7 linked regions of the Homo sapiens genome follow. The protein of the gene in region 2 interacts with the protein of the main gene of each other region in a biochemical or structural test. Each region holds a gene or a part of one and is shown on either strand. Other genes may lie near its edges.

Evidence for each region.
Region 1: the proteins of TNFAIP3 (region 2) and PFKL form a complex in vitro, tested with the Homo sapiens proteins (one study listed by BioGRID).
Region 3: the proteins of TNFAIP3 (region 2) and RNF168 form a complex in vitro, tested with the Homo sapiens proteins (one study listed by BioGRID).
Region 4: the proteins of TNFAIP3 (region 2) and UBE2N form a complex in vitro, tested with the Homo sapiens proteins (one study listed by BioGRID).
Region 5: of the proteins of TNFAIP3 (region 2) and RIPK1, one has a biochemical effect on the other in vitro, tested with the Homo sapiens proteins (2 studies listed by BioGRID).
Region 6: the proteins of TNFAIP3 (region 2) and RNF114 form a complex in vitro, tested with the Homo sapiens proteins (one study listed by BioGRID).
Region 7: the proteins of TNFAIP3 (region 2) and MAP3K5 form a complex in vitro, tested with the Homo sapiens proteins (one study listed by BioGRID).

The regions. Positions count from the first base shown.
Region 1 is NC_000021.9:44,310,053-44,313,552, reverse strand, and holds part of PFKL (ATP-dependent 6-phosphofructokinase, liver type), read right to left. Parts: intron 2,548-3,500; coding exon 2,470-2,547; intron 1,449-2,469; coding exon 1,259-1,448; intron 576-1,258; coding exon 410-575; intron 1-409. UniProt on the Homo sapiens protein: Catalyzes the phosphorylation of D-fructose 6-phosphate to fructose 1,6-bisphosphate by ATP, the first committing step of glycolysis.
Region 2 is NC_000006.12:137,870,259-137,873,758, forward strand, and holds part of TNFAIP3 (tumor necrosis factor alpha-induced protein 3), read left to right. Parts: intron 1-574; exon of another isoform or gene 575-654; intron 655-776; exon of another isoform or gene 777-924; coding exon of another isoform or gene 925-969; coding exon 970-1,264; intron 1,265-3,500. UniProt on the Homo sapiens protein: Ubiquitin-editing enzyme that contains both ubiquitin ligase and deubiquitinase activities.
Region 3 is NC_000003.12:196,486,769-196,490,268, forward strand, and holds part of RNF168 (E3 ubiquitin-protein ligase RNF168), read right to left. Parts: intron 1,916-3,500; coding exon 1,839-1,915; intron 811-1,838; coding exon 631-810; intron 1-630. UniProt on the Homo sapiens protein: E3 ubiquitin-protein ligase required for accumulation of repair proteins to sites of DNA damage. Acts with UBE2N/UBC13 to amplify the RNF8-dependent histone ubiquitination.
Region 4 is NC_000012.12:93,408,066-93,410,947, forward strand, and holds part of UBE2N (ubiquitin-conjugating enzyme E2 N), read right to left. Parts: intron 2,810-2,882; coding exon 2,669-2,809; intron 2,015-2,668; coding exon 1,974-2,014; 3' UTR 1-1,973. UniProt on the Homo sapiens protein: The UBE2V1-UBE2N and UBE2V2-UBE2N heterodimers catalyze the synthesis of non-canonical 'Lys-63'-linked polyubiquitin chains. This type of polyubiquitination does not lead to protein degradation by the proteasome.
Region 5 is NC_000006.12:3,074,994-3,078,493, reverse strand, and holds part of RIPK1 (receptor-interacting serine/threonine-protein kinase 1), read right to left. Parts: intron 1,731-3,500; coding exon of another isoform or gene 1,671-1,730; coding exon 1,507-1,670; intron 716-1,506; coding exon 559-715; intron 1-558. UniProt on the Homo sapiens protein: Serine-threonine kinase which is a key regulator of TNF-mediated apoptosis, necroptosis and inflammatory pathways.
Region 6 is NC_000020.11:49,949,897-49,953,396, reverse strand, and holds part of RNF114 (E3 ubiquitin-protein ligase RNF114), read right to left. Parts: intron 1,322-3,500; coding exon 1,256-1,321; 3' UTR 1-1,255. UniProt on the Homo sapiens protein: E3 ubiquitin-protein ligase that promotes the ubiquitination of various substrates. In turn, participates in the regulation of many biological processes including cell cycle, apoptosis, osteoclastogenesis as well as innate or adaptive immunity.
Region 7 is NC_000006.12:136,561,978-136,565,477, forward strand, and holds part of MAP3K5 (mitogen-activated protein kinase kinase kinase 5), read right to left. Parts: intron 639-3,500; coding exon 526-638; intron 1-525. UniProt on the Homo sapiens protein: Serine/threonine kinase which acts as an essential component of the MAP kinase signal transduction pathway. Plays an important role in the cascades of cellular responses evoked by changes in the environment.

The sequences.
Region 1 (3,500 bases), on a different chromosome or scaffold from region 2:
GTGGATGGAGAGGCAGGCAGGGGACAGCCCCTTCTCATGCCCAGGCTCTGAGCTAAAAGATACCTTGGGATCCTTCCAGCCTTTGGGCTGGTTTCGACTGATCTCCTCCCAGGCTGAGGGTCATTTGCCAAGCCCAGGCCTGGCCAGCCCAGGACTTCCTTTGGGGGCGTCACACCCCAGGGCAAGCAGCTGCCCCTCAGAAGGGGCTGCACAAAGGCCCCCCGCGGCCTGGCAGAGTGGGAGTGGAGCCCGCTGTGCGTTCCCCCAGCTGGGGGCTGAGGGCGGCTGGCCTGGATGCTGGGGCTACCAGAGTCCACTGCCCTTGCAGATGGCCGTCACCCTGAGACCACCTCACCACCGTGCGGGGAGGAGGGGCCCTGGGCTGGCCGCCGGCGCCAGCCTCACTCACCTCTGGGCAGTGGTGGTGATGGCATCGATGACCTCCATGATGCGGTGGAGGGCCGAGTCCGTGCCGATGGTCATGTCGGTGCCGCAGAAGTCGTTATCGATGGAGCCCACTAGGCCCGCGATGTTCAGGTGCGAGTAGGTCCGGGCTGTAGTCTCTGAGATCTTACCTGGGCCAGGAGCAGCAGGAGGACCTGGCTGAGGCTCCACTGGCCCCACCACAGGGCCAGAGACCCCTCTCCTGCCACCCCTTCCCCCGCATCCCAGGCGTGCAGCCCGGCAGGGGCCCCGGAGTTCCAGGCTCAGCCTCCTCCTGCCTGGAACCCTGTGGCAGCATGGCTGGATCCGCTGGGGCCAAGTGCAGACGGGGGACCTCTGGGGTGCCTTGCAGAGCGGCCAAGGCCTCACATCAGGGTCCCCCACATGAGGGACATGGAACAGACATGGCTCCGAGAGGCCACTTTCCAAGCAGCAATCTCGGGACTCTGTGTCTTATGTCACCCCAACTTCAACTCTATTTCTGCAGACTGTGACCATGCATGTCCAGAATCTCACTCGGATCAATCACAGAGAAGACTTGTCTACGCAGCGTAGGGTGAGCAACACCGGCCTCCACCAGCCCCATGCACTGCCTGGGTGCCCTCCCTCAGGCTTGAGCACTGACCTCCATCTCTGGGAGACATCTGAGCTCGTGCTGGCAGACACTACTCCTCCCCGGCCAACGGCCAGACAGCCCCTCCTCTGCCTCGGGGCACCCAGGGATCCCTCGTCCCTCTGTCCTGCCCATTCCCACGCCTGGCAGCAGCGGCAAAACAAAACCCCAGGGCCTACAGTGCGCCGGGCACAGACCCACCTTCCGCCACCAGCTCCTCCAGCAGGCTGCCCCACTCGCTGCGGAAGATGTTGGCACCTGTGAGGCTGCCATCCCCGCCGATGACGCACAGGTTGGTGATGCCGTGCTGGACCAGGTTGTAGGCCGCTGCCCGGCGCCCCTCCCTGGTGGTAAAGGCCTTGCAGCGAGCGCTGCCAATGATAGTGCCGCCCTGCACAGAGGAGACCAGAAACTTCAGGAGAGATGGCAGGCGGCAGACAGCCCCTGGGGATCACCAGAGGGACCCCAGGACTGGGCAGCAAGGGGCTGGCAGACCCTGCAGAGTGAGAGGCAGAAGCCCCGGGGTCTCTGGAAACCTGAGGTGGCCCTACCTCCCTGGGCCTCTCTCCTTGGAGAGACAAAGAGGAGGATGATGTCCGTCCGGTCCTGGGCTTGGGAAGCCCCAAGGTAATAGAGTGGAAGGCTTTGGAGACTGGAAAGCACAGTACACACACGCATAGGTTGCCACACACATGTGCGTGCACACGTGCACACACAGGCCCTGTACCAACTCAGGGAACCGGCCAGGGCCTCCAGGGCTCAAGCCTCAGCAGCTCCAGGTGCGCTCACGTGGCCCCTCATAGCCAGCCTCAGCCAGGGCTCCCCCAGGACCCAGCACGGCCACGTCTCCAGGTCCTCCTGGCCCCTGGCAACCCCATGACCCTGCGACCCAACAATTCCATGGCAGCAGATGACAGGGTCGGCCTGAACCTGAGTCCCTGTGCGATGGGGCACGTGTGTGTGTGACTCTGAGTACATATGTCTGTATGTTTCTGTATCTGTGTACCTGTGTGCGCATCTGTGTGTCTACGTGTGTATCTGTGTATTTATGTGTCTGCATGTGTCTATCCATGTGTATCTGTCTCCATGTCTGTGTGCATCTGTGTGTGTCTGTGTGCGCGTCTGTGTGTCTGTGTGCACGTCTGTGTGTCTGTATGTGTGCATGTCTGTGTGTGTCTGTGCACGTGTCTGTGTCTGTGCGCGCCTGTGTGTCCGTGCACGGGTCTGTGTGTGCACGCATCTGTGTGTGTGCACATCTGTGTGTGTGTGCGTCTGTGTGCATGTCTGTGTGTCTGCATGTGTGTGTTTGTGCACGTGTCTGTCTCTGTGTGTGTGTCTGTGTGTGCAGGTCTGTCTCTGTGTGTCTGTCTGCGAGTCCAAGTGCAACATGCATCCGCGTTCCCAGGCCTCACCAGCTGGATGATGTTGGAGACGCTCAGCCAGTTGGCCTGCTTGATGTTCTCACCTCCCTCCACGAGGCCCTCATAGCCCTGAAATCAAGAGTGGGGCAGGCATGAGATAGGGGACCCCATGGCGGCCGGCAGCAAGTGGTCTGGGAGCAGGATTTTCACCCCACCAGCAGAAAGCAGGACCAGGGTGCTGACTGTGAGGCCCCACCATCATCCCAGGGCCTGGGTAACAGGGTCCGGGTGCCCCCTAGGGGGCTCCAGACACCCTCTGCACAGCTGGTGAGTCCGTGTGTCCCGGGGCGTGACTCCTGTGGCAAGTGCTTTGGTGCAGGGGCCTGTCTGAGCTCCCTCACCCCACCCAGATCCACACAGGCAAGTTCAGCGTCCCGAAGGCCCCAGCGGAGCCCGCCATCCAGCTCCTGAGGGTGCATCCTAGGTCTGCCTGTTCTGAACATCCTAGAAATGACACCACAGAGGCTGCTGTGCGTGGCTCCTTCTGTCCCCACTGGAGTCCTCCCAGGCATGCGGCCGGCGGGGTGTGCGGCGCGTGCTCTTGCTGTGTGGCGGCCGTGTGAACAGCCCAGGCTACCATCTGCCCGCCAGAGCGGGAAGCTGAGAACACACACACCTCCCTACAGGCGGGCCCCCACCCGAGGGAGCTCCTGGGTCCAGGGGACCCGAGTGGCCATCGCTCGTAGGGCCGGCAACACCCCAGGCAGGGGCTCCAGGCTCCGCGTCCCGCCACGCCGGCCACACTGGGCCTTCCATCCAGTACCGTGGATCTGCCTCTCATGCGGTTCTACCTGGGATTTCCCAGATGGCACCTGCACAGCCTCCGTGCCACGTGCCCGTTTCCTACTGCACGGCCAGCCCTTTCTTGTTGTTTGAGGGGAGGGACACTCATGACTGCATTTCACTAAGGGTGTGGAGAGGAGAAGGGCGGCCTCCTCCGTGCAGCCCCGGTCCCTCCATGGCATCAGCAGCCTTCTCCAGGCCGTGAGGTGAGGCAGTGGAGCAGCCATTCCTCGGCCAGG
Region 2 (3,500 bases):
TTATTGTTCTATTATTATTTTGCGGTTTTTCATTTTTTGTTTTCGTAGAGACCTAGGTCTCACCGTGTTGCCCAGGCTAGTCTCAAACTCCTGAGCTTAAGTGATCCTCCTCCCTCGACCTCCCAAAGTGCCAGGATTAAAGGCATGAGCCACCATGCCTAGCCTATTGTTAGTCTGTTTCTTATTCTGATATGAAGTCCGGTGCGGAGGTTCTGAAGGAATGCTGACTGCTCTTAAAATTGCAAAGCATCTTGCTGGAAATGGACTTTTTTATTGATTAGAAAACATTCGGTTTTAACTCTTTATAAACATCAGAATAAACTTCATGATTAAACACTTTATAAATACTTCTCTTTGGGGCTAAAGAGGAAACACCAACCAGCAGCCTAAGTGACAGCATAAAATTGCAAGATTTTTCATAAAGTATTTTACTGTCCTTCCAGCATAGGGAGGGAGTGATAACTCAAGAGTTTGCCCAAGAGCAGGAGTGCTTGGTGGTGGTCTGAGGGGAGGAGCTACAGACTTGTCAGGGCTACTTTGAGCCCTTAACTGGCATCCAGTACTCCCCAAATCCAGTGCTGTTCAGGGTGGCCTCAGAATGAAACGGGAGCTTAAGTTGGTTTTGAGGAGCAGTACCTGTTGCTGACAGACAGGGTTGGCTCCCTGACAAACATTACTGAAAACACGGGTTATTCCCCTCCTCCTCAGTACCCACTCTCTGCCTTCCTTCTCTTGTTTAGGCTAATCTTTTAAAGTGATGTAACTTAAAACAGTCCAGTGTGAGTTAATCTCTGGGGCCAGCTAGTATCCCGGGAGTAGAGGTGCTAAGATCTTTTGCCTACAGATCAGGGTAATGACAAGATCAAACACTGGGGTTTCCTGCAGGCAGCTATAGAGGAGTCGTATTAAAGTCAGGCTAATAGAATGGCTTTTTTTTTTTCCTTTCCTTTTCAGGTGTTGGAGAGCACAATGGCTGAACAAGTCCTTCCTCAGGCTTTGTATTTGAGCAATATGCGGAAAGCTGTGAAGATACGGGAGAGAACTCCAGAAGACATTTTTAAACCTACTAATGGGATCATTCATCATTTTAAAACCATGCACCGATACACACTGGAAATGTTCAGAACTTGCCAGTTTTGTCCTCAGTTTCGGGAGATCATCCACAAAGCCCTCATCGACAGAAACATCCAGGCCACCCTGGAAAGCCAGAAGAAACTCAACTGGTGTCGAGAAGTCCGGAAGCTTGTGGCGCTGAAAACGAACGGTAAGACTTGTTCTGTTGTGTTTCTTTTGCCTGGGTGATAGCTCCCGCCTGCTGGATCCCCATTCATGAAGCTTTAATAGGACAAGCCCAAACTCAAATCAATCTTGAGATTTAGTATTGAGACCTTTATATAGAATCTCTATTCGGGGTATGTGATAATAGCAGACTTGTTTTGTGAATCTATTTATTAAGGATATTTTCTGATTGTGTATATTGCAGAGCACATTGAGGCTTGGAGAATGCATTTGTAAACACCATACCTCCATTAGGTGATTTCTTTCTAATTCTTGCAAATGTCTAATCATCTGTAAAATACCCTTCTCTGGCCCGTAATGGAAATGTTAAAAGCCTTTAAGTTCAAAAGGAAAGAATGGTGTGAAAACTGGTAGTACATTTGTTTCCCACTGTCATTAGAAAATGCTTGTGATGTTCTTACACTTCTTGAATTGGTAGCATTTTATGGGTTAACCAGTGAATGGCTGTTGAAGACATGAAGAACTTCTTTTGTCTCCTCCTCCTCTCTGACCTAGGTTCTATTGCCTATGCCCTGCAAGGTGAAATAGACAGATAGCTGAGATTTTTAGCATGAATTTTAGACTTCACCTTCATTATTTTTAGGGGTTCTTAGTCACTGAATTCCTTCCTGTCTGTGCTGTTCTGCCAATGGCCTTTACCACTAGTAGCTATTTCCTATTCCAAGCTTTACTGTTTTGTTTTTTAATCATTTCCCTTGGGTAAGAATATGTGCATCAACAGGAATGTCAGAGCATACTGTTTCATGCAGGCACAAAATTCTGCTCTATGGATGTGCATAATTATGACAATAAGGAAGTTGACTGTACAAGCTCAATTAAATGCTCATAGTCTACATAAGAGCAGGAATCTCAGGTCCTTATATCTGTGACAGTCCCAAACCATCCTAATAGAAATAATATGTCCAAGGGCAGAAAATCCTTGTTGACAAGGATTACGATAAGAACACTAACTTAATTAACTTCATTCAAAAGCCAAGTACATTAACTTTGGCTTTTTTTGACTTGGGTAACTTAGAGTGATTGGTGGACATGGGTTTTTAAATTTTGATTCTGGGGGCTCTTGTACATTACCCCAACGTCTTGCCTAGATTTATGAAACACTGATTCTTAGAAACATAGATAGAAAGAAAACTGGGGATAGCTACTATCTGCATTGTTCTTGGCATTAAATTAAGTGATACTTAGAGGTAGGTAATTATGTGAAGTCATCATCACGGGGTTTATGTGCCTGACAATTTGTGGTTTTAATCATCTCCCATTTGTTACCAAAAAGAGATGGAGTCAACTTTGGGGGAGTTGGAAACAAAGATTCTGCTGAATTAAAAATGTGGTAGAAAGAGGAACACCTTATTAAGAGAATTAACTGACTTTTAGCTTTATTTCCTTAAGAAAGGAAATGCTCTATTTCCACTAGAAAAAAAAAAGGAATATAAATAGGAAACACTTATTTTGTAAACATGTCATTTAAATCAACAAGGAGCCACACTACAAATAAAACTACAAAAGCAGGTGCATTTTGGTAACATTTTCTGGGAAATCATTTTTAGACTCAGAGTCCTTTTGTTTCTTCACTTTCAAGAAAACTCCTTAAGATTCTAAAAAAGGAAGAAAAGATATTTAGGGAGGGAGGAAAACAAATGACTTTTTCTTTGATTTTAATTAGCACCTTTTAAAAAAAAATTAATCCTTCCCCTGATAGGAGGGTTCTTCAAAGGCAATATCTGTTTGGGGAGGGGGTGATTCACAAGTTTGCATTTGAGGATATGAGACTGCGGTGAATGAGGAAGGGAGTAGGTGGCATAAAATTGAAACTTCATGTGAAAAATTCCAGCGTCTATTGGCTGCAGCGATTTCACTTGTATAATGAGTAGCCCTATTCCAGCTCACCCTGACCACACCCACTTGGAAAGTCCAGGGTGCACTTCGCAGTTTAAATGTCTACACACCAGAACAAAAAGTACAATAGCTGTTGCTCAATTGCTAGTCAAATAACTTAGCACTGGGGAATTCCAGATGTTACTTAGGGAATTTTATACTGGTGCATCTCAATAAAGAACTGAAAGTAAGCACAAGAAGAAAAAAAGCCTTATCTTTGCTCTAGATTTTGCAAAGGGGAAATTTCAACAGAACGCAATCATTGCTACACGTCTGCCAAGACACAAGGCTTGGGCGATCTTTTTTGTTCATTTGTTTGAATACTT
Region 3 (3,500 bases), on a different chromosome or scaffold from region 2:
ACATATAAAAAAGTTGTTAAACAACTTGCGGTGGCTCACGCCACAAACCCAGCACTTTGAGACGCCGAGGCAGATGGACGGCTTGAGCCCAGGAGCTCGACACCAGTTCAGGAAACATGGCAAAGCCCTGTCTCCACAAAAAAGTAGCCAGGCATGGTAGTGCCAGCCTGTAGTCCCAGCTACTCGGGAGGTTGGAAGGATCACCGGAGCCCGGCCGTCGAGGCTGCAGTGAGTCGTGATTGTGCCACTGCACTCCAACCTGCATGACAGAGTAAGACCTGTCTCAAAAAACAAAAAACCCCAAAAACCTGGATTAGAGCAAATATGTAACAATATGCAAAACAATTTTACTTTAAGTAAAGCAAAAATGTTATCAATAGCTTCTAATTATGGCAACGCCATCTCTTCTGTTCTTTGAAAACCACAGTCAAAGCAATCGGAATGTTAATAGTTAGCTTTCCGTATCAGCAGGTTCCAAACACTCAAATCCAACCAGCCTGGGGTGGAAAAGACAATATTTGTGGGATGCAGAACCTGGAAATACAAGGAGCTGACTCTTCCCATGAGCGGGTTCTGCAGCAGCGCATACCAAGGGATGACCATACCTTAGCGTTCCCTCCTAAAACTTACAATATCAATGCTTAGCTTTCTTGCCAGTTCCTCATCACTTTTCAGTTGTTCTTCCATCGCTCTTCGCCTTTTTTCTGCCTGTCTTTTTTCCTCTTCTTCCTCCTCTGCCAACAACCTCTGTATGTATTCTTCACTGGCTTTGTTTTCTTCTTCCTCGCTGGCCCGTCGCTCTGCCGCCACCTTAAAAGTGATTAATAAAGAGCAATCCTTCTCTGAACGTTTTGGTATACTTGCAATATTTCATAACAAGAATAGAAAAGTAGAAAAAGAACAAATTGGCAGAAATTTAAATGATCTCAAATGAAGTACAAATCTGGAGAAGTAGATTCCTGCAAGATAGCTGTCCCATCTCAGCCTCCCAAAGCACTGAAATTATAGGTGTGAGCCTCCACACCTAGCCTGAGATGTATTACAAGTGAAAATTATACACAAAATTTTGAAGACTAACAAAAAAAGAGAAAAATCTCTATTTATGTATAACTTCATATGTAATTAAAACATAATGCTTCACTATAAACACTGCTTTTTAGGTACTTTTCCTATTTAGGAACTTCACAGCTAGCCCTTTAACCTTTCCTCATCTAAACTCACACTCTACCACCCTTTTACTTTAAGCTCAAAACTTTGGGGAAATAAAAATATATCCTGGTATGGATTAAATTAGGAAAAAGAAGAATTAAAAAATTTTCTTCATATGTAAATGCTTAGGGAACACTATCACATAAGAGCATTAATTATGTAGAAGTAAATTACAGCAAAAAACAAAGCCCTTATAAAGTACATTAAAATTATCCATATTTTGGCCAGGCACAGTGGCTCACACCTATAATCCCAGCACTTTGGGAGGCCGAGGCGGGCGGATCACAAGGTCAGGAGATCGAGACCATCCTGGTGAACACTGTGAAACCCCATCTCTACTAAAAATACAAAAAAATTAGCCAGGCGTAGTGGCGGGCGCCTGTAGTCCCAGCTACTCGGGAGGCTGAGGCAGGAGAATGGCATGAACCCGGGAGGTGGAGGTTGCAGTGAGCCGAGATTGCGCCACTGCACTCCAGCCTGGGTGACAGAGTGAGACTCCATCTCAAAAAAAAAAAATTATCCATATTTCAAGATATACTAGTTATATAAGCACAAAAAACTAAATTAAAATCTGAAACTAAAAACACAGCAGAGAAATATTCCAAAAAAAAAAACTATTTAGCACCTACCTTGCTTATTTCCTCTTCATATTCTCTTCTCAGTTCCCCAGGTTTACTGAGCAGACGAACTGGCTGATAGTCATCAGCTATTTCATATCAAAAAAGAAAATAACATTATAGGCAACACAATTTTATGGTAACTTTGGTCTTCCATTAAAACGAAAAATTAAAATATACAACTATTAATAACTGCAGCAATATCTCCTTTTGGAATTCCATTTTTAACATTTATTTTATTTATTTATTTTAGATTTATTTTATTTATTTTTTTTGAGACAGAGCCTTGCTCTGCTGCCCAGGCTGGAGTGCAGTGGCACAGTCTCGGCTCACTGCAACCTCCACCTCCCAGGTTCAAGCGATTCTCCTGCCTCAGCCTTCTCCTGAGCAGCTGGGATTACAGGCATGCGCCACCACACCCAGCTAATTTTTTATATTTTTGGTAGAGTCAGGGTTTCACCACATTGGCCAGGCTGGTCTCGAGCTCCTGACCTCAAGTGATCCACCCGCCTTGGCCTCCCAAAGTGCTGCGATTACAGGTGTGAGCCACCACGCCCGGCCTGGAATTCCATTTTGTGAGGCCAGAGGTTTAGGGTTTTGGGTTTGAAATGGCATATGAATGCATATACTTAACCCTTCCTCTAAACTCCATTAAAATAACAGTAAAGGAATTTTTAAAAACTGTAATCCTACAACAGCAGAAATTAGCAGAGGAGGTTAACTGATTAAAAAAAAATGTTTTTTTTTTTTGAGACAGAGTCTTGCTCTGTCACCCAGGCTGGAGTGCAGTGGTGCAATCTCAGCTCACTGCAACCTCCGCCTCCCGGGTTCAAACAATTATTGTGCCTCAGTGTCCTGAGTAGCTGGGATCACAGGCATGCCCAACCATGCCCAGCTAATTTTTGTATTTTTAATACAGACCGGTTTTTGCCATGTTGGCCAGGCTGGTTTCGAACTCCTAATGTCGGGCAATCTGCTCACCTCAGCCTCCCAAAGTGCTGGGACTACAGGCGTGAGCCACCGTGCCCGGCTCCAGTTAAAAAATTTTTAACAAATTTCTAGAAAATGGGAAGGCAATGAAATAGAGATAATTGATACAGCAGAAATGAAGGAAAAGAAATCCTTGAAAGGGAAGACTACAGCTGAGGTAGAATTAGAAGGGAATCTGCCTCCTATTTGCCTAGAGAGAGGCTCATAGAGTCCAGAGTGAGTAACCGTGGGACTGAAAACAGAACTCGAGATTTATAAGCTGTTAAATCAGAATCCTCGACTTACCGGCATTTCTCCCTGGATATGGGTGCAGGTGCACACACGCATATTTCTTTAAAGAAACAGATCTAGAGAGAGCCAGAGCAGCTAATGTAATAGGTGGTGACCCAGAGCAAAGTCCTCTGCGATCGGGCAGTTAGGGATGGCAAAGCACAAAGGCCAGGTTTCCATCGGCTTGAACTCAACGTCTGCCCATCACCAATACCCTTCCACATACACAGAGCTTTTCTCCTGGGCCTCATTCTCAAACCTAAAAGCTAATCCAAGGATCGTCAGACATTTGAAATACATCTGCAGGACTAGGGAAACAGTAAGCTATACAAAGAGAAAAAATCATCACCCTGGAGTTGAAAGATAATTCTGGGTCAGAAAATAACCTAAATGTGGGTATGTATCCTCAACAAA
Region 4 (2,882 bases), on a different chromosome or scaffold from region 2:
TGTAAATCACTATGTGATACTAGCTATAACCATGAGCAATATTACGGGCAGTAAATGTTGATTTCTATTTCGTTTCTTGAAGTTTTGTGTGGTTCATTTTTAAAGTGAGATTCAATTTCCTTAGCTATAGTCAAATGTACCCTTTAAACAGCCCAAGAATTGTTATAAATGACAGCTGCTATCAGTTTTCAAATTTTACAATATTAGGGTTGTTAACTATTTCATTCTGAATTAAGCTAACATTTGTTACCAAGCAATGCATTTATTTGGAAGGATACCAGTTACCAGTCATCAAAAGCTTTTGTATGTTGAAAATGTAATTTTAATAGTTAATTCTTCATCTTACATAGGAGCACAATAAAATACACCACAATCTGAAGAAACTCCAGAATTACGAGAATAAGAGTGAAGAAAATTCAAATGGGCTACAATATCCATTACCTTAAACTGCAAGAGACAAGGTTGCAACCCGAAGGTTAACATTTATGTATTTATGACTGGCTACATTTATGACTTAAAAATAACAAGAATCAGGAATTAGATATGGAGAGAGGTGGGAAAGAACAGTTTTGTGAGGGGAGGAATTCGTCAATAAAGAAGAAAAATTACTGAATTCCAAATTAAAGAATAAAACGAGCTCCCACAGCAAATACTGGAGGGATGAAAGCAAGAATCATTAACTGAGGACTTGATACTCTCAAAGGGATAAACCTTTCTGATGACACACAAGCTAGATAGTTGAGATCTGCTCATCAGGTTTATAAGGAAGACTCACAAATGCCTCAGCAAATCCCAAATGATCAGATCAGTGTTTCTTAACACACATGAAAGGTTACAGATGAAATTTTCAGATAAGAACCAAGAAAAATGTCATAACCCAAATTTTAGGCAAAAATGTGGCACAACTGTGAAAGTCCTACATGTCAGTCACAACTGCTATCTTTGCTGTGACTTTCCTGTACAGTAATTTTTAAACATTGTGGCAAGACACCAATGATCATCTAATCAGACAACACAAACACATTTATTTCAAATTCCTAGAAGGTTAAAAAAAGGTCAGATACTGATGCTTTATGCATGCTCAGGGCCAGTTTATAAATACTCCATTCAGTACTATCTTAACACAAATCTGCATCAGTGAAAAGAAACTGGCAAAATCCACCTCTTGCCATTCAATTTGTCAGATGGTGAAGACCAAGAAAGAATGTTCCATCAGTTTCAATTTTAAAATACGATTGTCAAATTGGGAAAATGAAATAAACACAGTAAAATAAACTGTACAAAGGCAAAGTAGAATAACAAAAAATATTTTACTAAAACATAAGATTTACAGAAGTTTCCAGACAAGCCATACAAAATGGTCACAAGCTTTTTTTGAAGGGGGGAATCTACACTTGACAGCAATGTTATTAGTGAGGGCTGTGATGTTTGTTTAATGTTCCCATTTTGGTTCCAACAATCAAGCTTGTCCATCTACAGCGTCTAAATAAAGTTAGACTTGGCTAGAGCATATTCTAAAGACCTGGTTAGCTGCTTTTAACCAATGCAATTAGATCACCAAAAAAGGGGGAAAGGAGCCCATAAAATTAAACTACCTCCCCCCTCAAAAATAAAATAAAATAAAATAAAATAAAAACACCCACACCCCTGCAGCTAACCTGACAACTACCTTCATTCACAGTGCTTTATACTTAAACCAGGATGGGGGAAATGAATAAAAGCAGGGAGGGGCCACTGCTTTTAAACGTTTCACAACAATCCAGATGATACTTCTAGCCTCTGCTCATGCTTTATGACAGTGAATCAGGACAAGACATAGATTTGCTAATGTGCATTTAATCACCAAAGGACTGAAGATGTCTGGGCTTTTTTATTCTGTAATGTTTCTAAGACTGTGTCCATTAAATGCAAACAAAGAGGAGGAAGTCTTGGCAGAACAGGAGAAGTGATGCACACTTGATGATCGTATCAATTTAAATATTATTCATGGCATATAGCCTAGTCCATGCTCTAGCTGTAGACAGAAACAAACATACGATTATTATTTTACTTAGTTCAATATGTTACTTTCCAAACTATAAATGGCAAACAACCACTATTAATTATGGAAATGTCATGCTGTAATCTGTTAAATTCACGCCTTTTTCTATAAATTGGATCAGGGCTGAAAGATTTTGTAAATGTCCAATTACCAAAACACTACAATAAAATTAAGAAGTTCTAGAAAATTCAAGAGGATGAATCAAGTTGTCCATTTCTAGATACACAATTCTCCCCACTAATTTTCTTAAAATCTGTAGCAGAAGCTTCTTGACTCCAAATTCCGTAGCCATAAACAGCTGAATACTTTAATCAAATGGGTTACAAAAACAGTTCAAGTTTTCCAGTATTCTTTACATATAACTAGATAAATGGTATGCACTCAGTATTTGTTAAACCAGGTGTAGTTACAAGAGACTCCAAGATCTTTCAATTACAGGTTGTCTTTATATTTGGGGGGTCCCATAGCAAGCCATTTTGTTAAGACGTATTTACATACTATAAGCAGGATCTCACTTATTATACTTTTTTCTATTTCTTTTCCTTGCCAAGAGCTTTAGAAAAGTTTAAGTGGTAATACAAATTTGTAAAAGTGGAAGTGGTGTGAAGGAGAATGAATATTAGATACCTGTTTCTATGGCTTGGGCTTCGTTGGTCTTCCACTGCTCCGCTACATCATTTGCTAATGGATCATCTGGATTGGGAGCACTTAACAAGGCCTGGATCGATAGCAGAACTGTGCGGATCTGCAGTGCTGGGGACCACTTATCTATGAAGGCAACAGGCCCAGTATGATAAAGCATGAAAAAAACAGGCCCAGAACTGCTTCACTTCCCTCCCAC
Region 5 (3,500 bases), about 130 Mb from region 2:
ATGGTAAACAGCCAATCACATTCCTAAGACACAGACTATGGAGGACTGTCCACAGGATCGAGAGGATGAAGAGACCACTCTCAGGGCAGTAAAAGGCAAGGAAGATTTTCTCTTTTTTTCAGAGACAGGGTCTTGCTCTGTTCACATGCACCTTTTATTTTTTGTAGAGAGGGGATTTCACTGTGTTATCCAGGCTGGTCTTGAGCACCAAGGCTCAAGTGATCCTCCTGCCAAAAGTGCTGAGATTACAGAAGTGACCCACGGAGCCCAATCAAGGCATAGATGTTTTAAGGAGAAACTGACTTCAGGAAATCCAGCCTGTAATCCCAGCTACTTGAGAGGCTGAGGTGGGAGGATCACTTGAGACCAGGTGTTGGAGTTCAGCCTGGGCAACATAGCAAGACCTTGTCTCTATAAAAAAAGGAAAAGAAAATTCAAACTACCAAGCAATTTGCAAATTTGATGCTAACGAGCTGCAAACAAACACCCCAAGGGGAGCCATAACAGACAGCCAGGGCCCAAGCGCTGGGGATCCCCGTGCGGAGGGGCCCTCTCTACCTCGGCTTTCAGCACGTGCATCAGGTTGCCCTTCTCCATGTACTCCATCACCAGGGAGTACTTCCCTTCCTCTATGATGACGCCCAGGAGCTTCACCACCCGGCTGTGTCTCAGTCTGTTCATCATCTTCGCCTCCTCCAAGAGGGCCTCGTTGTGCCTGTGGGCAGGAAAGGTGCTATGCTGAGGCTGGCAGAGCCAGCGCCTCAAGAGCCTGGTGCACACCTCCAACACATCACTCCCACGTGCTGGGGTCATGCTTGGGTCTGTACCGATCTCTTCCAGGCACAGGCCAGAAGCGTTAGAAGGCAGAGCGGTTTCTCACTTCCTCACAGTACTCCTGCCCAGTAACTGGCAGTGCATGCTCCAAAAATGTAAATCAATGAAGGAATGAATGAATCAATGAATGAAAAGTACATGAACAGCAGCAAGGTAACCTGAAAAAAGACCGTGCTGGACAGAACGATTAAAAAAAAAAAAAACAGCCTCTCTCAAAACCACTCTGACAAAGGAGGGAGAGAGGTGAAACCACTCTACTGGTTGCTTTAAAGGGAAGGCTCTCAGAACCTCTCAGGAATGAACTGCCTTTTCATTTTTATACTTAGGGCTGGTCCTCACTGAAAATGTGAAGCGAGTGAATAGGTCTGTCTTCACCCATCCTCCTGTTTCCTTTTCATTGTCCCCCCACCACACTTATCTCTTTGTCTTTCTCTATTTCCTTCTTGTTCATGTCTCTTCTGTTACTTACCAGCTGTGAGAGTCCTTCACTACCCAGTCTCAGAGTCCACATCAGCGACAATAACAATCCGAAGAGCCATCGTCACCCTGACATCTTGGCAGGCTCCCTCTCACTCTACCCACCAACGGCTCCGCAGCAGCCAACGGCTCCACAACAGCCAACGTCCCCATCCCGCTCAGAACTTAGCCCACCCACCCCTGCTCCCTACTCACTCAATGCAGTTGGGCCCCTTGTACACTGTTTTCATGATCATGAGTCCCTGGGTTCTGTGGAAACACAGAGACACCTTCCCAAAGCCTCCGCTGTCCAGTTCTGCACTCTCCAGGAAGTCACTGGATTTCATCTTAATGACATTCAAGGACATGTCTGGTTGCATTCTGAAGCTCAAGAACGCCCAAAATGGTACCACTTTTTCCCCCCCCGGCAGAGCTGTACCCTGTAAAGAAAACAGAGAGAAAACCTCAGGGCAAGACTATATATATATATATATATATATATATGTTTTTTTTTTTCTCCTTTGGAGACAGGGTCTCACTTTGTCAGTCAGGCTGGAGTGCAGTGGCACAATCATAGCTCACTGGAGCCTCGACCTCCTGGGCTCAGGCAATCCTCCTCCCTCAGCCTCCTTGAGTAGCTGGGACCACAGGTGCACCCCACCGTGACCAGCTGATTTTTTAATTATTTGTAGAGATGGGGGGGCCGGGGGATCTCACTATGTTGCCCAGGCTGGTCTCAAACTCCTAAGATCAAGGGATCCTCCCACCTCAGCCTCCCAAAGTGCTGAGATTACAGGTGTGAGCCATTGTACCTGGCAGAAAAGATCATTTTTAAAAACTTTTGTTAACATTCCACCACATGCTTGGTGTGCCTTGGATTTCTGAGGATAGACTTACAGTCATCTGATGAGCTATTTTTCATATTTTTAAGAATCAGAGAAGACTATAATATTTATTCCCTCAGCCTTTTTATTTCTGGCAATATGGAGCATTAGAAAATTTTAAGAACCCTCCAGCTATAAAGGACACAAGTATGTTGGACAACATAATACAAACATTCATTGAAATGCATACCAAAACTCCGTGGAAAGGAAAAGAACTCTAGGGACAGAAACAGAGCACCGGAGGCAGGCAGTAGCTCACACAGGGGAGTGCCAACCTCGCCATCCAGAAGTCAAGGTTTAAAGCCCAGCTGAGGTCAAGGAATACAAGAAAAGAAGGTAGAATGAAGAATCCCCCCTTAACACGGCACTGCTCAATGTGCAACCCTTTGATGAAAGGATGAACTAGAAAAAAAGCAGCCCATGGCAAACAAACATATTTGTCTTGGACTGGGCACAAGGTATTAAAAAAAAAAAAAAAAAGTTTGTGCAAATTTATAACCTTGGGCCTGTCTTGAAATAGATACAGACTTTGAATTGAGAGGATCGCCTAAACTATGAACTTTTACACAGGAAGTGGTCACAGGCTGATGCCATCCTGAGGTTATAGGCTAAAGCAAACAACAACCTCAAGCCAGGCCAGACAGAATTCCTACAAATACAAATTTAACATGAGCTCCCTTTCCAAAATTATAAAACACAAAAGAAAAAATTCACTGTGAGACAGACCCTGCAGCTACAGCAAGCAGCACTAGTAAGCACCAAAGAACTTCAGTAAATTAACAACTGAAAGGCATTAGAAAATGAATAGGTTTAAGTAATTATGAACAAAAGAAGGAATCTGAAGAATATAAAAAGAACAATGCAAACTCTAAGAAGAAAATGTGAAAAAGGAGTAGAATTTGGAGAATGTCCATCAGGGCTGTGAAGTATACAGTGTCAGATCTCAAAGCACAGCTATTTGCTTCATCCTTCCTCCCTTCTTTTCTTCCATTCATTCATTTTCCCCAAACTGAAATATAGAATAAAAACCCATGGAGAACCACAAGGAGACACCACTACACAACTACCAGGATATCCAAAACTAAAAAGACTAATACACCAAACACTGGCAAACATGTGAAGCAACCAGACCTCTCAAACATCACTGGTGGGAGTATAAAATGGTACAAACACTTTGGGAAAAGGGCTGGCAAAAAGCTTCGTGGCAAAACAGAAACTCCATGCAAACCAACAGGACACGGACACACTGGTGTGTGCATGTGAATGTGCGTGTCTGTGTTTTGCTTTGAGAGTAAAAGGAGGGCTATGGATGTTTTGTATTCCAGA
Region 6 (3,500 bases), on a different chromosome or scaffold from region 2:
GGTTCTGCTCCTACAGATTAGGCTGACAGCTCTTGGACTTATATTTATTAATATTTGTGAAATATGAACTCCAAGGTTCTTGAGCTGTTCCTAAAGCAAGTTTCCAGCAACAGCTTTTATTAACAACTGTTCATCTTGCGATGTGCTGTGCCTTATGAACGATGTCTCGTCAGAACAGACCAGGGGTGGTACTGGGTTTCCTATAGCTTCTCTCTGCATCTACAAAGCAGGTTTTCAAACACATTTTACATGTCGAAACCAGTGTCATAAGGAAAACATTTGTGACAGAAAAACAATGCTCAGTTTAATCTAAGTTACCAAGCAGAAGGTAAAAGAACTAGTATCCGCTGAGTCCCCAAACCTCTTTCTTCTAATTCATCTGAGGATTTTTTGTGCTTCTAGAACAAGAATGTAGGCAGGCTCCCAAATGGAGAGGTAAACATGACCGCGTTGTTTGAAACTACTTCATTAATTTGTAAATCAGAACCAAAAAGCTCTGGCCCTCCCACTTCTCTTAGCTGACCCTCCTCCCCACTTACGGATAAACAGACTTTAACTTCCCTAACCCAGAAACACTTCCACCAAAAATGTATGGTTATACCTTATCCTAAAAAGGCACCATGCAGGCATTTAAGACTGAACCAGTGAACTCTAAATATGTAGTAGTAGAAAATATCACTAATCAAAACTTCCAGCATCAGATGGTACAAAACCCCAAGAGGACTGGTGACATGTACCCCGGGATGGCAACCCCAGCTTCTGGCAACCCCACAGCCCAGCGGGAGCTTCAGCTCTGGTCAGGTGCACGGCTGCCAAAGTCTGCACACCTTGGGGACAAGGAAAGGAGACACTTGCTTCATTGTGCTATTCATGACCCAGAAAAGGTCCTGGCTGGCTTGAAGGACCCGAGAGACAAACACTGGATGGGAGGAATGAGTGTGAAACAAGAGGTGGAGAAGCTAGATTATCTTCCACAGGAGGCGGCAGAAGCTCCAGGAAGTAGCCGAGAACCAATACGAACTCGACCGTGTGACAAACAAGGTTAACAGTAGGGGAAGACAGCTTTGGCAAGAGCCCAAAGGGAAGAGAAGGGCTGACCTGGGGACCCACTTCCCCTGTCAGAAGTGACCCTGTCCCAATGCCATGGCTCATTTTCAGGTCTGTTGAACAGGTAAGGTACAGGAGTCATAGATTTCACGTTTAATATGTAATGGAAGCTCTGTAACATGAGACAGATAGCAAGCACGGACTCTGCTCACTGGTCGATGATGGAGCGCTGCAACACCTGATTCATCATGTCCTCTTCATCAACATCATAATCCTAAGGGCAAAAAGAGACATGCAGCCTCAGCAACTGTTTCTAGATGCAAAGACTGGCTTTCAGTAGAAGCAGGACAGCCTAGCAACTGGATCCGGAGCAGGTTGCCAGGGACCGGATCCCCAGTGCAACTGTTTGTGATGCTAGGTATGTAACTTTGGGAAAATTAATCTGTCTCTGCTGCCTTCTCTTTTTTTTTATTTGATGGAGTCTCGCTCTGTTGCCAGGCTGGAGTGCAGTGGCACAGTCTTGGCTCACTGCAACCTCTGCCTCCCAGGTTCAAGTGATTCTCCTGCCTCAGCCTCCCGAGTAGCTGGGACTAACAGGCGTGCGCCACCATGCCCAGCTAATTTTTATGTTTTTAGTAGAGACAGGGTTTCACCATGTTGGCCAGGATGGTCTCAATCTCTTGACCTCGTGATCCACCCGCCTTGGCCTCCCAAAGTGCTGAGATTACAGGCATGAGCCACTGCACCCAGTCTGCTGCCTGATTCTTAAATGAAGTTAAGGATGCCTCCCTTAAATGGAGATTGAGAAACCCAGACAGCACACGAATGGAGGCTGGCACAGACCAAGTGCTCAGAACATTTGTAAGTCTGTCGGAACAGAGCACGCAGATGCACTGAGCTGAAGAGTTGTTTCTGAGAGGTGGAATCAGTGCACAGTACAGAATCAGATTTTTAGAGCCATACAATACAGCAGAAACTATAGCGCAACTAGCCCTCTTTAATGAGTCATTTTTAGGACTCATTTTTAATGAGTCATTTTTGTTAATGTGACACAGATGAATGTAATTCATCTGTGTCACATTAACAAAAAGGGCAGTTATTCTGAAGTCTGAGTTTCAGACACTGTCAGACTGAGAAAAAATATTCTTTATGACAATTTAGCAGAGAGCTTTCTTTCTTAGATACTGAAATTCAGCCATCAAGACCGAATACCACTCTAAAATCCTAACTTGACATCTATATATGTAAGTAAGAGGTTTACTTGATATAGTTGGCCAAAGTTACCTACTACTATAATGGCAAGACAACAGTGTGCCCCTTTGAAACCATCCAGCTCTAGGGAAAGAATATAAACCTGACAGCCGTATTTGGCTAGTGGATATATGCTATTTGACCTGAAGTATTTTTGAAGATAATTAAAACCTGTGAAACCTCCTGTGAAATTTTCCTGTCCTGCTTGGGCATGGGGGGTGGAGAAGCTAGGCAATGCTGCGCCTGCATTTCCATAGGAAAACAAGGTGATGGCAGCATAACGAGTCAGGCACCACCTGGCTTGGAAATCCTCAGGAGGATCATTTCAATTATGGTCCCCATGGACATGCGAGATTGAGCCTCCCAAGTCCAAATTGTTGTTGTGTGTGTGTGTTTTGTTTTTTTTTTTTTTTTTTGAGACAGGGTCTCATTCTGTTGCCCAGGCTGGAGTGCAGTGGCATGATCTCAGCTTGCTGCAACCTCCGTCTCTTGGGCTCAAGAGATCCTCCTGTCCCAGCTCCCTCAAAGTAGCTAGGACTACAGGTAGGAGCCACCACACCTGGTTACTTTTTGTATTTTTTGCAGAGACAAGGTTTTCCCATGTTGCCCAGGCTGGTCTCGAACTCCTGAGCTCAAGCGATCCACCTGCCTCAGCCTCCCAAAAATGCTAGGATTGTAGGTATGAACCACTGCACCGCACCTGTCCCCAAACCAAGTTCTATAACAGGCAGAAATTATATAAACCACAAGAAAAGTAGACAAAAATTTGGTGGCAGGGCTAGGAGATGGAAAGAGCAAGTATCACTGTCTCTGTCTCAAAGACTGACCAGATCATCTTCTTGTTTGTTTTGAGACAGTCTTGCTCTGTTGCCCAGGCTGGAGTGCAGTGGCACGATATTGGCTCACTGCAACCTTGCCTCCCAGGTTCAAGCGATTCTCCTGCCTCAGCCTCCCAAGTAGCTAGGATTACAGGTGCCCACCACCACACCTGGCTAATTTTTTTGTATTTTTAGTAAAGACGGGATTTCACTATGTTGGCTAGGCTGGTCTCGAACCCCCGACCTCAGGATCCGCCCACCTCGGCCTCCCAAAGTGCTGGGATTACAGGTGTGAGCCACTGCGCCCAGCCCAGATCATCTTCTTAAATGTCACTCTGGGCCGGGCGTGGTGGCTCACGCCTGTAATCCCAACACTTTGGGAGG
Region 7 (3,500 bases), 1.3 Mb from region 2:
ACTATATAATTATCATAATCTCTTTTTCCACTATGAAAGAGCCACATATCTAAACAAATAACTATGAATTCTGTTTTCCTCTAAATGGGCTAAATAACATTCTCCCCAGCTATGCCTTTTTACTACTACATCTTTATTCTATTTAAGCCTCTTCAAATTATAAGGAAAAAGGCTAGAATACACAGAATATAAATGCAAAATGACAAAAAATAGTATTATTTATTCTAGTAAGCTCATTGTGAAATCTTTAAAAATAAAGACTAAAAACAGAGAGCCCTGTTTACCTCAGTAATACATAATCTCAGGAAAAGATGATTATGAATAATCTATTTTTACTGCACTTATAAGAAATGAGTTTGCTACAGTTAAAAACTGGATTTTTTTTTTTTAAAGGAATTCCTGCTTGCAGTCATGGTAGAAGTGAGAAATGCTGACTTAGCCACAAATAAAACTTCCTGTTGGCTTTCTTGGCTTTTTGTGGCAGCCTGGCTGAACAGTATTACTATAAAACTTTCTGCTATTCACCTATGGGTTGGGACTTAAGCTTCAGGTGTTTAATTTCTTGGTCTTTTTCTTCAATAGCTCGATGAAGGAGTGCTTGTAATTCTTTCTCTTTCCGAACCAATTCTTCCAGTAATCTGCAGAAGAAAAATATATTGTTTGACAGGAGGTGACACAGGGTGACCTTCTTTTTTTTATTTTTATTTTTTTAGATACAAGGTCTCTCTCTGTTGCCTAGGCTGAGTGTAGTGGCCCAATTATAGCTCACTGCATCCTTAAACTCTTGGACTCAAGCGATCCTCCCATCTCAGTTTTCCAAGCAGCTGGGAATACAGACATGCACCACCATGCCTGGCTAATTTTTTTTTTTTTTTTTTTTGTAGAGACAGAGTCTTGCTATGTTGTCCAAGCTGGTCTCTGAACTCCTGGCCTCCAGTGGTCTTTCCACCTCAGCCTCTCAAAGCTCTGGGATTATAGGTGTGTGCATGTGCCACTGTGCCAGGCCTAGGATGACCTTCTAGACATGAGCTATAATAAGCACATACACCCCTAATTTTATTGAAATACAGATACTGGTCCAGTGCCCCGGGGGTGAGTTCTGAGACTGTATTTATAATGAGCTCCCAGATGACACTGATGTTGCAGGTTCACAGACCCTCAGGTCCAGAAGCTAAGCTTTGGAAGACTGTGCTTGCCGACAAGAATTCAAAACCTCCACCACAGATTGTCTGCCAAAATCTTCAGAGATGTGTCCTGATATTTCTTGTTATGACCATAAATGTCAAAGATATAAATATGGGATACAGATATTAACAGGCCTATATTTTACATGTATGGACCCCCATTAAAAAAAGTTGGCAAATGTGCATAATTTCATAATCAATGCAAATCAGAAAAGTAATCACTTTTTGTAAACTATGAAAATTTGAGAAACAGTCATAGGTGAGGTCGCCTAGAATATCTGGCATATAACAAATTCTCAGTAAATGTTCACGGTTGTTGCTACAATTGTGATTGTTACTATTATTCCTCTTCCTTCTAAGGGGGCGGGGGTGAAGTGGGTAAAAGGATAGCTGTGTTCCTGGTACATTCAGTTCCTAGTTGGCATCTGATGCAGTCTCCAAAGAAACAAGGAGAAACTGTGATATTCATACCAAAGTTCTTACCCATAGAAGGTTCACTATGCAACTGAGAGCCAACTGGTAACCTACTCACCATTTCCAATAGAATTTCTCAAAGAAAACATTCCAAGTTATGAAAAGAGGTGCTCTAATTTTTTAGAAAAGTATCTTAATGTAAGTTGGATTCAGAAATAATAATTTAAAATATATCGTTATTAAGATTATCAGGATAAATCGTTGCATAAACTACAGCTCTTAACAAACTCTATTTGTTTCATTTTCTGAGTATTGATAGATTTAACTCAAGAGTTTGTTTCTGCTTCACTTGACATAATCTGAAGGCAGCATCGTGCAACTGACAGATCTGGGCTTGTGTCCTGGTTCAACCCTGCACTTCCTGTGTTAACCTTAGATAAATTACCTAATGCCTCCAGGCTTCAGTTTTCAAATCATTTGTAAAAAAGAAAACTAAAGCTTCCAGAAAAGATTATTGTGAGCATTAAATGAGACAGCATAGGTACAGTGCCAAGTCAGTGTCTGGTCTTTAATAAGGGATGTTCTGTTCCTTGCTACCTCAGTCCCTGGAAAAGAGCCTTTCCAGGACTCAGTGGGAAGGAAACCTTCCCAGACCCCCAGGCTCGACCCCATTCCCACAGGACATAAAGATGAGATCCTCAGAGAGAAGGGATCACAGCAGAGTAGGTAGCAGAGGTGGGACAAAAGTAAAACACAATAAGAGGTAGACAGAGAAGGTGGGTGGAGGAAAATAAGTTAACAAAGACAGCTGCAGGGTAAGTGTGGTGCACAATGAGGTGGATGAAGCAGCATGAACTGAAAGCTAGAAGAGGGAGCACAGGGTCTTGGAGGGAGGCTTCTTATCTCTTTCAAAACAAATATTATCCAAAGAAATGGGCAGGAAGCTCTGTGTGAATGTTTAAGTTGGCAGTTTTTTGATCTGGTATGTATTTTTGTCCTACTTGCTAATTTATACGTATAAGACAGTGATGGTATCTTCTTACTGTTTTCTCAAGGAACACAGTGATGTTTTCTAGAGTTTAACCTATGTTTGTCTAGACTATGTAATTTCTTTTTATCTTTTGTTAAAGTGAATGAAATATGGCCTGAGAAGGACTCCGTACTTGCATATTTGAGTCCTCGTGGACAAACTATAACTTAACAGGTAGACAAGATTGAAAACCTAACTTAGGAGTATGCGTCTATAACAATAGCTGAGTCTTGGCTAATCCCAGGAGCCATACTTCAACCACTCATACACTGCTGAGTGTTCAAATAAGGTGAACGCCAACCCATAACAAATCCAGCTCTTTCTGCACACTTCTGATTTCTGTACGTCACTTTACTTTTATTTTCTATAAATTTGTTCTGGCCACGAGGCATCCCTGGAATCTCTCTGAATCTGCTGTGATTCTAGAGGCCACCTGATTCACAAACTATTTTTTTCTTTTTCAATTAAACTCCATTAAATTTAATTTGTCTGAAGCTTTCTTTTAACACCTTAAACACCAGAACTTCAACACTGGAAGCAGAGTATTGACAGCCCACCTCATTTGCTCCGAATCCAGCTCTTAGAAGTATTTATCTTAAGAACAATCCAGTACATCAATTTTATTTTTATTTTGTGTTTATTTAGCAGGGCAATATTTTGAAATCAAGGCAACTGTCTGCCTTTCTGTTCCAAAAAAGTATGGCAGGATCTGCCATGAGGTCAATTTTTAACCTTGGATGGGCAGGGGTGATGAGGTGGATTGGTGGGTAATTCCAGAACTGTAGGATGGGGAAATTAAATAAACAGGCAGCTCCTCTTGAGACAGGTTTTTGTTTTTGTTTTTGAGATAGGGTCTTGCTCTGTCACCCAGG